Linked DNA regions of Homo sapiens. The protein of the gene in region 2 purifies or fractionates together with the protein of the main gene of each other region. This does not show direct contact. Each region holds a gene or a part of one and is shown on either strand. Other genes may lie near its edges.

Region 1 (7,028 bases), on a different chromosome or scaffold from region 2:
TGGGAGGATCACTTGAGCCTGGGAGGCGGAGGTTGCAGTGAGCCAAGATTGCACTACTGCACTCCAGCATGGGTGACAGAGTGAGACCCTGTCTTAAGAAAAAGAAAAAAGAATATAAACATAAAAATCCTCAAAAAAGTATTTGCAAACTGAATCCAGCAGCACATTGAAAAGATAATACACCACAAAAGTAGGCTTTATTCTTGAGATGCAAGGTTGGTTCAACATGCAGATCAATAAATGGGATTCATCACAGAAACAGAACTAAAAACAAAACAAAAACCACATGATCATCTCAAAAGACACAGAAAAGGCTTTTGATAAAATTCAACATCGCTTTACCTTAAAAAACATCAACAAACTAAGCACTGAAGGAACGCACCTCAAAATAATAAGAGCTATCTATGACAAACCCACAGCCAACAACTGAATGTGCAAAAGCTGGAAGCATTCTCCTTGAAAAATGGAACAAGACAAGGATGCCCACTCTTACCACTCCTTTTAAATATAGTACTGGAAGTCCTAGCCAAAGCAATCAGTCAAGAGAAAGAAAGGAAAGGCATCCAAATAGAAAGAAAGGAACTCAAACCATCTCTCCTTACAGATGATATGATTCTTTACCTAGAAAACCCCATAAACAGTCTGCTCAAAGGCTCCTGGAACTAATAAACAGCTTCAGTAAACTTGCAGGTTACAAAATCAATGTATGAAAATCAGTACATTTCTATACACCAATAACACCCAAGCTGAGAGCCAAATAAAAAACGCAACCCCATTCATAAGAGCCACAAAAATAATAAAATACTTAGGAATACAGTTAGATGTTTTACCACAATGAAAAGGAAATCAGAGATGACAGAAACAAATGGAAAAACATTCCATGCTCATGGACAGGAAGAATCAATATTGATAAAATGGTCTTACTGCCCAAAGCAATTTACAGATTCTTATTTGTTATTCCTGTCAAACTACCAATATCATCTTTCACAGAGTTACAAAAAACTACTCTAAAATTTGTATGGAACCAAAAAAGAGCCCAAATAGCCAAGGCGATCCTAAGCAAAAATAACAAAGCTGTAGGCATCACACTACCTGACTTCAAACTATACTACGAGACAGTAACCCAAACGGCATTATACTGGTACAAAAACTGACACATAGGCCATGGAACAGGTTAGAGAACTCAGAAATAAAGCTGCACATCTACAACTATCTGACCTTCAAAAAAGCTGACCATAACAAGCAATGGAGAAAAGAATCCCTATTCAATAAATGGTGCTGGGATAACTGCCTAGCCATATGCAGAAGATAGAAACTAGACCCCTTTCACCATATACAAAATCAACTCAAAATGGATTAAAGACTTAAATATAAGACCTACAACTATAAAAACCTAGAAGAAAACCTAGGAAACACCATTCTGGACATAGGCCCTGGCAAAGATTTCATGGCAAAGTCTCCAAAAGTAATTCTAACAAAAACAAAAATAGGTAAATGGGACCTAACTAAAGAGCTTCTATATAGCAAAAGAAACTATCGACAGGTTTCTTAAACAGACAACCTACTGAATGAAAGAAAACATTTGCAAACTATGCATCTGACAAAGGTCTAATATCCAGAATCTATAGGGAACTTAAAACAATTGAACAAGCAAAAAACAATCCCACTAAAAAATGGGCAAAAGACATGAACACTTCTCAAAAAAAGACATACAAGCAGCAGCCAATAAACATGAAAAAATGTTTCACATCACTATCACCACAGAAATGCAAATCAAAACCAGAATGAGATACCATCTCATACCACTTAGAATGGCTATTCTTAAAATTTCAAAAAAAAATAATTAAAAAAAAAAAAGATGCTGGTGAGGTTGTGGAGAAAAGGGAATACTTATACACTGCTGGTGGGAATATAAATTAGTTCAGCCACCGTAGAAAGCAGTTTGGAGATTTCTTTAAAAAAACTTAAAATAGAACCACTACTTGATCCACCAATCCCACTACTGAGAATATACCCAAAGAAAAACAAATTGTTCTACCAAAGTGACACACACGTCCTTAAGTTCATCACTGCACTGTTCACATTAGCAAACACATGCAATCAACTGAGATGCCCATCAATGGTGAACTGGATAAAGAAAATGTGATACATACACACCATGGAATACTATAAAGCCATTTTTAAAAAAACCCAAATCACATCCATTGCTGCAACATGGATGCAGCTGCAGGCCATTATCCCAAGCAAATTAATATGGGAACAGAAAACCAAATACTGCATGTTTTCACTTGTTAACTGGGCACTAAACACTGAGTACACATGGACACAAAGACAAGAACAATAGACGCTGGGGCCTACTAGAATGGGGAGGGCAGGAGGTAGGCGAGTGTCAAAAAGCTACCTACTGGGTACAATGCTCACTACCTGGGTGACAAAATCACTTGTACACCGAATTCCAGCAACACATAATTTACCCACGTGACAAACCTGCACGTGTACCCTCTGAATCTAAAATAAAAGTTGGAAAAAAAATAAACAAGAAAAAAATGGACTATGATAAAGCCAAAAGTAATTCTGGTTTTCCCTTTCAAAGTACTGAATTTTGTTACTTCAGAAAGCACTACATCTTTACAATCATTTCTATAATGCTACCAAAATACACTGAAACTAAATGTGATAGATTCAAAGAAGAAATAGAGATAAGGAGCTGGGTGTCGTGGCTAATGCCTGTAATCTCAGCACTTTGGGAGGCTGAGGCAGGTGGATTGCTTGAGCCTAGGAGTTCAAGACCAGCCCAGACAACATGGTGAAACCTCGTCTCTACAAAAAATACAAAAATTAGGCAGGCATGGTGGTGTGCATCTGTAGTCTCAGCTACTTGTGAGGCTGAGGTGGGAGAATCACCCGGGCCCGGGGAGGTAGAGGCTACAGCGAGTTGTGATCATGCCACTGTGGCCTAAGCATCAGAGTGAGACCCTGTCTCAAAAAAAAAATAAGTTCTAATCTCCACTCTAACATTTTGACTTTCAAGTTTAACTCTGTGAACTTCTTTTCAAAAATTATTATAATGTGATAAGATAATAAGACTTGTCCTAACTATTTTATAAGGCTGCTGTGAGAATTAAAGTCTAGGTTGCTTTAAAAAGATGAATTATTTTAAGTATTTGCCAAAATAAATCATTCAGCCAGTAACAAAACCAAGTTCTCTGCTTTGTCCTTCTTCATAAATACATTTAAAAAAAAAAAAAAAGAACAGTGCAGGGCTTCTCAATTATCTGCTTTTTTAACGGAAAGATAATCACAGATAAATGAAATCAATAGATAACTAGCAATCTTTAGATCATGTTCTCAAATTCTTCTATCAGAAGTTGAATAAGACCATCTATTCAAAATCAAATCTCTGCTTCTTTCCCCAATCACCCTCTCCTTTATAATTAAAAAGTGAGGATTGTAAAAAACAAAAAAGCTTCACTCATTAATTTCTTCATATGATATTGCTCTAATATACAGAAATTTTGGCTCACAATTGGTTTAACTAATTTTTTTTTAACTGGCAAGTCTTTTTTTTTGAGACAAGGTCTTGCTCCGTTGCCTAGGCTGGAGTGCAGTGGTGAGATCATGGCTTACTGCAACCTTGACCTCCTGGACTCAAGTGATCCTCCTGCCTCAGCCTCCTGTGTAGCTGGGACAAGCACGCATCACACACCCAGCTAATCATTTGAATTTTTGTAGAGATGGGGGTCTCACTTTGTTTAAGACCACTTTGCCCATGCTGGTCTTAAACTCCTGGGCTCAAGTGATCCTCCCACCTCAGCCTCCCAAAGTGCTGGGATTACAGGCATGAGCCGCCATGCCCAGCCAAGTTTTAATATACGTTTACTTATCTATATTACGCCAATAAGAAATTTGATGGATTTTTCTTTTTTTCGCTTTCAACTTGTTACTTACCAAGCAGCATTCTGTTTGTAAATAAAATCTATCTATCTCAAAGTACTAGAGCCTTTTGTTAACCAAATCAAGAAGAATATAACACCCCGGGATTGGTTTCATTTTGTCACTATAAAGCAGGGATTAGCAAACTTTTTCTGTAAAGATCCAGAGAATAAAATATTTCAGGCTTTGTGAGCCATACATGGTCTCTGTAGCATGTTCTTTTTCTTCCCCCCAACTCTTCAAACTCAACCCTTTAAAAATGTAAAAGAATATTCTTCTTAGGTTAAGGGCTCTACAAAAATATAAACCGTTAATAAAGCATCACTGAGGCAGCTCTAATTTCTAGGAAAAAATATATATACATGATATTAGACAGACACATAGAGAAAGGCAGAAAATAATCTAGACCACAGCAATGTTAGCTCCATTACCTATATAAAAATAACTAAGTTAGGCCAGGTGCGGTGGCTCACGCCTGTAATCCCAGCACTTTGGGAGGCCGAGGCGGCCAGATCATGAGGTCAGGAGTTTGAGACCAGCCTGACCAACATGGTGAAACCCCGTCTCTACTAAAAATACAAAAATTAGCTAGGTATGGTGATACGTGCCTATAATCCCAGCTACTCAGGAGGCTGAGGCAGGAGAATGGCTAGAACCTGGAAGGCAGAGGTTGCAGGGAGCCGAGATCGCACCACTGCACTCCAGCCTGAGCAATAGAGCAAGACTCCGTCTCAAAACAAAACAAAACAAAACAAAAAAAAAAAAAAAAAACAAAAAAAAATAACAAAAATAACTTGAGAGATGCTGTAATGGTGAGAGTTTAGAGCATTCCTGAGGACCTGGAGAAAACTCGTTTCTGAGAAGGACATTTTGAAGGTTTTGTTGCCTGAAAAAGTTATCTCTGGAATCACACTCCTAGATCTTTATTGAAGACTTGAAAAGAATTAGATTAGGACCATGCGGACACAGAAGGTCACCCCAGCTCTGATCGTTGCCATTACAGTTGCTACAATTGGCTCTTTCCAAGTTGGCTACAACACGGGAGTCATCAGTGCTCCTGAGATGATCATAAAGGAATTTATCAATAACACTTTGAGTGACCAGGCAAATATCCCTCCCTCTGAGATGTTGCTCACGTCCCTCTGGTCCTTGTCTGTGGCCATATTCTCCATTGTTGGTATGACTGGCTCCTTTTCCGTTAGACTCTTTATCAACCACTTTTTGACAGGTGCAATTCAATGCTTATCGTCAACCTGTTGGCTGTCTCTGGTGGCTGCCTTATGGGATTGTGTAAAGCAGCTGAGTTGGTTGAAATGCTGACCCTGGGCTGCTTGGTTATTGGCCTCTTCTGTGGACTGTGCACAGGTTTTATGCCCATGTACATTGGAGAGATCTCAGCTACTGCCCTGCAGGGTACCTTTGGCACTCTCAACCAGCTGGGCATCATTGTCAGAATTCTGGTGGCCCAGATCTTTGGTCTGGAATTCAAATTCATCCTTGGGTCTGAAGAGCTATGGCCGGTATTATTGGGCTTTACCATCCTTCCTGCTATCCTACAAAGTGCAGCCCTTCCATTTTGCCCTGAAAGTCCCAGGTTTTTGCTCATTAACAGAAAAGAAGAGGAGAATGCTAAGTAGATCCTCCAGCAGTTGTGGGGCACCCAGGATGTATCCCAAGACAACCAGGAGATGCAAGATGAGAGTGCAAGGATGTCACAAGAAAAGCAAGTCACCGTGCTGGAGTTCTTTAGAGTATCCAGCTACCAACAGCCAATCATCATTTCCATTGTGCTCCAGCTCTCTCGACAGCTCTCTGGAATCAATGTTGTGTTCTATTACTCAACAGGAATCTTCAAGGATGCAGGTGTTCAAGAGCCCATCTATGCCACCATTGGTGCACGTGTGTTTAATACTATCTTCACTGTAGTTTCCCTATTTCTGCTGCAAAGGGCAGGAAGGCGGACCCTGCATATGATAGGCCTTGGAGGGATGGCTTTTTGTTCCATGCTCATGACTGTTTGTTATTAAAGGATGAGTATAATGGGATGAGCTTTGTCTTTATCGGGGCTATCTTGGTCTTTGTGGCCTTTGAAATTGGACCAGGTCCCATTTCCTGGTTTATTGTGGCCGAACTCTTCAGCCAGGGCCCCCGCCCAGCTGCGACTGCAATGGCCGGCTGCTCCAACTATACCTCCAACTTCTTAGTCGGACTGCTCTTCCCCTCTGCTGCTTATTATTTAGGAGCCTGTATTTTTATTATCTTCGCCAGCTTCCTCATCACCTTCTTGACCTTTACCTTCTTCAAAGTCCCTGAGACCCATGGCAGGGCTTTTGAGGATATCACATGGGCCTTTAAAAGGCAGGCACATGGTGCAGATAGATCTGGGAAGGATGGCATCATGGAGATGAACAGCATCCAGGCTGCTAAGGAGACCACCACCAATGTCTAAGTCATGCCTCCTTCCACCTCCCTCCCAGCATGGGAAAGCCACCTCTCCCTGAATGAGAGACCTCATCAGGATGAACCCAGGACTGCTTCTGAATGCTGCTACTTGATTCCTTTCTTATCCCACGCACTCCATGCGCACCTCAAGGCTGGGGTTTGTTGGATTTTCAATGGTTTTTTAAATATTTTATTTCCTGGACATTCTCTTCTGCTTAGGAGAGACCAAGTGAACCTACCTTCATTTCAGGAGGCAATGGCCACTTGGCATATGACAACTTTGCCAGTTTTTCCTTCCTTGGGTTCTAATATTGCCGCACTAGGGGATATAGGAGAGGAAAAGTAAGGCGCAGTTCCCCCAACCTCAGACTTATCAGGAAGAAGATATACATATGAGTGTGGAAGGCAGACGGGGTTTATGTAAGAGCACCTTCCTCACTTCCATATAGCTCTACAAGGCAAATTAACTTGAGTTTTATTTATTTTACCCTCTGGTTTAATTACATAATTTTTTAAGTTCTGGGATACAGGTGCAGAATGCGCAGGTTTGTTACATAGGTATACATGTCCCATGATGGAAATGTTTATTTTTTTAAGTGTAATTTTGCCAAATAATAAAAACAGAAGGAAATTGAGATTGGAGGGAGGTGTTT
Region 2 (7,104 bases):
GTATGCTTGGTGCTGAGGGACACATAGAGAGGTGTGGAGAGAGGCCCCACTCTGCCTGGCTATGGACAGTCCAGCTACAGAGATGAGATGCTCACATGAAGCAAGAGAAAAAGGTGTGATACCAACCATCAAGATGCAGTCCCATGAGATCTGGCTGGCGTCCTCCCACCTACAAAGCCCTCTCACACATTATCTATTCGATCCACATCATTACCAAATAAGATAGGTAGTATTATCCCCATTTTACAGATGAGAAAACCAAGGCTTGGAGAGGCTGTGACTAGCCCCAGCTCAGCCAGCCAGGTTGGATGCAAATCAGCAGAAGCTTTAGAATTTCTATACAGGCATCTGCTCTGCAGTAGGGTGGGACGGGGACTTGCTTTGAAGCCTCATTTTATATCAAGCACACTGGTTTTACTTGGTTTGGGCTTTGGCAGTGGCTGAGAAAGGGGTGGGAGAAGCCAATGGGGCTGGAAAGGAGAGTATAAAATCTATGAAAGTAATTTATTGGTGATATCCATTGAGATACACCCAGTTCTGTCTGTCTCCAAGCCAGGGTTCTTTCCTATTCTGGATGGAAGGAGTTGTTCCAAGATAGCAGAAGGTAGTATGGAGTACATTGACTGTGGAAGAGGCAAGGCTTAACTCAGAGTGATCTCTGTAGGACTTGAGGGCCAGGGAGGGCAGCCCCAGGAGGGACACAATTTAGGAGCAAAGGTGTGGTGGGCTGTTAATTGAAGTTTGCTGAAGGCATCAGAGACCTCTCAGTTCTACACATGGGCAATCTGTACTGGTGGCTGGGACCTGCCTACTTAGGTGGGAACTCTGGGTCAGTCCCTGGGGAAGGCTCCTCCCCAGCTTTGGTGGACATGGGCCTGCCTTCTGCTCCCAGGTCTCAGCCTCCAGGCAGGGACTTATTCCTTGAAATCTTGCAATTCAGGTCTGGCCATCAGGTGAGCCCAGGATGTGCCCTACTAGACTGAGGCATACTGTAAAATAAATCCAGGCTGGCAAGGCATTGTATCTCTCTCCTCTCCCTCCAGCCATGTCCAGTGCCCTTTTACACAGAGCCCCTCAGCAGAGATCACCCCCACCTGCCTACCTCAACCAGTGGTTCTCAACCGACAGGACACAGAGTTTTTAATGATGTCCCACTGTCCCTGCATGTATCGTGGGCAGTTTCCTCACTGAGAGGCTCCATCAGTGAACATCTGGTGTGTTTGTTATAACTTCCTTCCCTTTCTCTCTTTGTCCAGCAACCTACTTATTCTCAAAGCTCTGTTCAAGCATCACTCCACTGGCTTTCCCACCCCACCCTGGCTGGTGTTTCTCCTTGAGCTCCTTTGCTCCCTGTGCCCACCTTCATTTACCACGTGTCATTTCTGCTGTATATGGTGTGAGGGGCCTAACTTTGATTCTTTCCAGATTGGTAGACAATTAAGTCATTGGCATTTATAAAACATCTTTTTCTTATTCATTTGAACTGCTACCTTCATTGCACACACCCTCTCCATATATGCTCAGACCTACCTCTGTTTGTCTGTCCTGGTGGCAATTCCATGCTATTTTAATCCCAATGGAATTATAATAAGTTTTGTATAGTGTGTCACCATCATTACTGGTTTTGTATTTTAGTTGACAAAAATTGACATTTGTTATGATATTGTTTTCCCGTGCAAGAACATGTTCAGATCCTATTGCAAATTTATATCCTGTGGGTAAGTTTTATAGATTCTACTATTAAACTTATTATTGTTATTAAATTTATTTATAAATATTTTATAGATTTTGACACTTCTGTGAATCAGACATTTCCTTCACTTCTATTTCTAATTGGTTATTGCTAATGTAGAGAAAAGCTATTCATTTTTGTACATTCACCTTAAATCCAGCCATATTACCAAACTCTGTTATTATTTTTGATCTGTTTTTCTAGAAAACCTAAAGACAATAGGGGATGGGGCAGTGTTTGGAGAAACTCAGATTCTGGGCACTGCAGTGCATGTCCTCCTGGGGACATGAGGCATAGCGAGAAATTCATGAAACTGACAGGTCAGTTGTGTATATGGAGGCGGGGGCGAGATAAGGTGGCCCCTAACTCTCCAGAGAAGCCTCTCCTCCCCGAGGCTCAGGACCTCCCAGTCCTCACTCCTGCATCCCACTCTCACTCCCCCACCACCAAGGAGCTGAGGCACCTCTGCACATCTCAGGTGACCCTGAACAGGCTCTTTTGCAGGATCCCCAAGAGAAAGGGCTGACCACAGCAGAAACAGAAGCCATGACTGCAGCAGGGAAAGGGAGGACTTAGGGCTGGTCCATCTGAGTGCTGAGGTCCAACACTCTCAGGGGCCTCGAAGAGGTTACTAGAGCCCTCTGACACCCCTAGACCAGCAGAAGTGGCAGCACTTGGCAGAACCAGGAATAATAGCAGCCACCATGGAGTGCGTTCCCAACAGTCCTCTGAGGATTCCCCTTTACAGATGAAGAAACTGGAGTTCAGGGAAATTAAGGAACTCACTTCAGTTTACACAGATAGTAAATGGCAGAGGAGGAATTCAAACTCAGGAACCTAACTCCACAGCCTGCCGCACCCAATATTCCCACGTGGCCATCTAGGCCATTCATGTTAAGCCCACCGGCCAAAGACTGGATCCCCTAGAAACTGCAGAGCTTTCTCAGGGACCCTGGAGTTCATGCATACACCAGACATTGTCTGCAGACATTACAGTAATATGTGCCCACTTGGGTCCTGTGGTGAATTGAATGGTGACCCCCTCCCACCCCCCGCAAAGGATAACTTCACCTGGAATCTCAGAAGGTGACTGTATTTGTAATAGGGGTCTTTGCAAATGTAATGAAGGTAAAGATCTCAAGATGAGATCATCTTGGATTAGAATGTCCTTCTCAGAGACAGAAAGGAGGGGACATACAGAGACACAGCGAGGAAGGGCGTGTAAAAATGGAGGCAGGCAGAGGCTGGAACGATGCCGTTGCATGCCCAGGAATGCCACAGGCCATCCGAAGCTGGAAGCTGCTGGGAAGTATTCGCCCCTGGAGCCTTCGGAGGAAGCATGGCCCTGCCAACTCCTTGTTTCCAGGCTTCTGACCTCCAGAACTGTGAAAGAATAAACTTCTGTTGTTTCAAATCACCTGTTTGGTGGCCATTTGTTACAGAAGCTCTGGGAAACCGACACAAATGTCCACCATTCTTCTGTTTTTTTTTTTTTGTTTTTTTTTTTTTGATGGAGTTTCACTCTTGTTGCCCAGGCTGGAGTGCAGTGGCGCGATCTCGGCTCACCACAACCTCCGCCTCCTGGGTTCAAGCAATTCTCCTGCCTCAGCCTCCCGAGTAACTGGGATTACAGGCATGTGCCACCATGCCAGGCTAATTTTGTATTTTTAGTAAAGATGGGGTTTCTCCATGTTGGTTAGGCTGGTCTCGAACTCCTGATCTCAGGTGATCTACCTGCCTCGGCCTCTCAAAGTGCTGGAATTACATGTGTAAGCCACCATGCCTGGCCCAAATGTCCACCATTATTATTCTTCATAAGAAACATAGGCATTTCAAGCCATTACCAAACTTATAGTCACTATTTATCATTATCTATTTTTCTCCATCAATGGATATGCAACTATTACTATCATGAAAAGTAAATTATATTTGCAACCCCATTATCTTCTAGATGGAGAAACAGTTTGAGAGAGGGCAGTGGAGAAGCAAGAGAGCTGGTCTGGAACCCAGCTGCCTGACTCGTGAGTCATTTCTCTTCCTCCAAAGCCCTATTAAGTCTGGGGCTGCTTATGGTCCTCACCAACTACACAAAGAAAGTCAGGGTCATGCTCATCCATCAGGAGGTTCAGGGCCACTTCCCGCTTTCCTCTGTTTGGCAACACTAAGAGTCACCCTCTGATTGTTCCAGAAAAGCAAGAATTGCTAAAGGCCATTGTGTCAAGTTTGCCCAATTCATGCTGCTTGACATCTTACCCCTCCCCACCCTGCTCCCATCCCCCCCACCCAGTGCCCCTGATTGCAACACTCCTGGCTGGGGTGGGACAGGGTGGCCAGATAAAAGCAGAGCAGGACCTGGAAAGCTGGTTTGTATGGGCTGCAGCCTGCCGCTGAGCTGCATCATGGTGCGGTCTGTGGCCTGGGCAGGTGAGCCGTCGGATAGTGGGCTGGGTCTCGGGAGCTGTGGGGAGGTGGGGATGTGGATGTTCAGGGACCACTTGCTACCATTTGCAAGGAAGCAGGAGGACTCAGGAGAACTTCAGAGGGTCATTTTATCCCTCTCCATGCCTCCTGGCTTGCAGTCCCTTGATTACCTTTCCTGTGGGCTCCCCCTTAGGCTCTTTCAGCCCAAGAGACTTCATGTTGCAAGGGAAGGCTTTTCTCAACAGGCTGAAGATGACTTGACTTTCCTCTCTCTGTCCTGAAAGCCCAGAGTCAATGAGGCCCCTGCACTGGGTCTTTGTGTCTTTCCCATGTTCTTAGGTCCCTCCTGTTGGCCTTATCCAAGAAGCGCCCACTGCCAAGAACCTCTTCTCCAACCTCATATTGTCTGTCCTGCAAGAGGGCAGCCTGGGGCCAAGATCCTGGGCATCCTTGCAAATTTTCATGGAGGTTCTATTAGGTTGACAGAGAAGTCCAAGGTCACCAGGTGAAAGAGATCTCTTCGAAGGAGTCCTGTCAGACCCTAGGTCTCCAAGGCTGTGGTTGCCTACCACAGCCAGGTAGCGGAAAGGCAACAGGAAGCCATAAACGATGGGAGCAGAGGCACAGGCCCTCCCCAGGAGATGAACTCTCTCCATGCAGCCCTTCCAGATTGATTCTTTCTAGCCCCAAAACAGGCTTGTTTCTTGTTCCGAAAGAGAAACTATCTCTCTAAATAACTCACAAGTCAGCAGTTTTTCCACAATCTTCCTGAATCCACACTGCCCTTTACTGAGGTATAGAGAGGGGGCAGCCTCAGCCCATGGAACTTTCCATCAGCTTCTAGGACCAACCCAGGCCAGGAAGAGACCCCCGTGGTCTGGTCTGCATGAAGGGATGGGCACAGTGCCCTCCTGGGTCCCTTCTGAAAGGAGAAAGCTTGATTTGTATGAAATCAGCCCTCCCTGACCACCTCCTGTGCTTCCGTAAGCTGTGGGGCCTGGGAAGGTGAGAATGGCAGCATAACCCTGGCCTTCTCTCTTGTGTTGCTCCAGGTTTCATGGTCCTGCTGATGATCCCATGGGGTAAGTAGCCTCTTTCTTGGCTGCCTCAGCCCCTTCCCTGGGCTCTGCTTAATGTCCCAAAACACCTTCCCTGCCAGACCTCCCCAAGAGCTCCAGATTTCAGTGGGGACTCTCTTCCAAAGCTCAGACCCCTGCAAATGTCCCCATCTGCTACCAGCCCTCCCAGGAAGGCTCTTGCCTCCTTATCCATTAGCTGAGCTCCTGCACATCTGTGGGGCCAGCTTGCGCATCAGCCTCTTTCAGGGCTTTCCTTTCCTGGGGTTGCTGGCTCCCTCCTCTGCACTCTGTGCTCTTGCAGCACCTGTGTGTTTTACAGTACAGTACTGCCTCTCATTATTGGCTTAGGTGTCTCTCTGCACCAGTCTCAGACTCCAAGTTGCTGCAGGTAAGGAACCTAAGTCTCATCTGGTTCAGCATCCCCAGCCCCTTAGCTCTGCGAGGACAACACACTTGCTTCTGGTCTGTTGAACTGATCAGATGTGGAGCTTGAGAGAGGCAGGAGGGAGCTCCTTGTTGTGTCAAATGGAAAAGAGACCTGGGGGACCTTCAGCAACTTGAACTCCTGGTCCCCGTCTTGTCCCACCCCATTCCCTGGGCATCAGTGGCCTGGGAATGCTGGCCTCTCAGAACTTGTCCTGCGACTGTGCCTCTCACGCTGGGCTGTAGCATTGGAGGTACATTTCCCTCTCAGCCTCATAGGATGGAACAGCCGGGGGCACAGAAACAGCAAACATGGGGAAGATGAGAGGTGGAAGATTTCTCAAAAAGCTTTAGTCCAGGCTACTTCTGGGCTTTCTGCAGTATAGTAATAATAGTAGGACTTTGTGTGGACTAAGGGTTAATATATGTGAAGCACCTAGAACAGAACTTCTTCCTTGCAGTGTTCCTCCGAGTGTTTTACATATATTAACTTTAGCCCACACTGGGGTCCTGTGACACACATTGTGGAAGGTCCAATGGTCTCCCCGTTTCACACAGGAGGAAGCTGAGTCGCACAGCGAGTAAGTTGCAAAGTTGGGATTTCAACCCAGACACTGACATGCCAGAGTCCCTGCTGTTAACCACTGCACTTTATTTTCTCCATAGTACAGAAATTCATAACAATATTTGATATGCGACAGCATGACATGATAGAAAAAGAGCTTCCTGGCTCCTTCCTACATGGCCTGGGGGATGAGTTATCTGGTTTCATCCCCTCCTTCCTTTCTTTTCCTTTGGGGAGTTCACCAATTCTCCTGTATCATTGCAGGCTACACCCCAGCCCCACTAGCAAGCTGCACTCCTGGGTGACCTCTGGTTAGAGACAGTGACCACTCCGGGGCCACGTGTATGCCCAAGGTCAGCCCTCCATGCTCTCGGGTTCTAGTTGAGGCCTGCCTGAGCGGTCTCTTCCCAAAACTCTCCTATAGACACTTTGCACCCCTCCTCTTCCTCGTCCCATCCCTGTCCATGTGGGCATTGGAGGGGGTACAGACAGACCCTGCTGGGGCAAAGGGAAGTCCCAGGTTCTAGACACCAGCCACAGGCACGCTCCAGTCCAAACTCACTGCTCCATCAAGATCTTGGCATAAAATGTTGGCTCATACAAACCACACCATCATAGATTGAGAGACTGGAAGAGACCCCACAGACCACACAGTCATTATCAGATGGGGCCGGGATTGAAGATGAGATAGACCCAAAGTCTATTTTTGGCAGATGCTGGAATGAAGACTAGCATTCTTGCTTCCTGGTGTCCTGGTCAACCCTGCACAGGGCTGACCTCAGTGGGGGTCATCACCACCGAGCCCTCACTGGGAATAGACCATCCCACCCCTGCAAAGTCTTTTCACACACTGTAGGGTACTCTAGAGACAAGTACCCTACAGT

Evidence for each region.
Region 1: the proteins of CHIT1 (region 2) and RMDN1 purify together in Homo sapiens (affinity purification with mass spectrometry; 2 studies listed by BioGRID and IntAct, with this or other methods). This does not show direct contact.

Annotation. Positions count from the first base shown.
Region 1 is NC_000008.11:86,498,686-86,505,713, forward strand, and holds part of RMDN1 (regulator of microtubule dynamics protein 1), read right to left. Parts: exon of another isoform or gene 4,731-7,028; intron 1-4,730.
Region 2 is NC_000001.11:203,226,664-203,233,767, reverse strand, and holds the start of CHIT1 (chitotriosidase-1 isoform 1 precursor), read left to right. Parts: upstream 1-4,094; 5' UTR 4,095-4,131; coding exon 4,132-4,156; intron 4,157-5,205; coding exon 5,206-5,235; intron 5,236-7,104.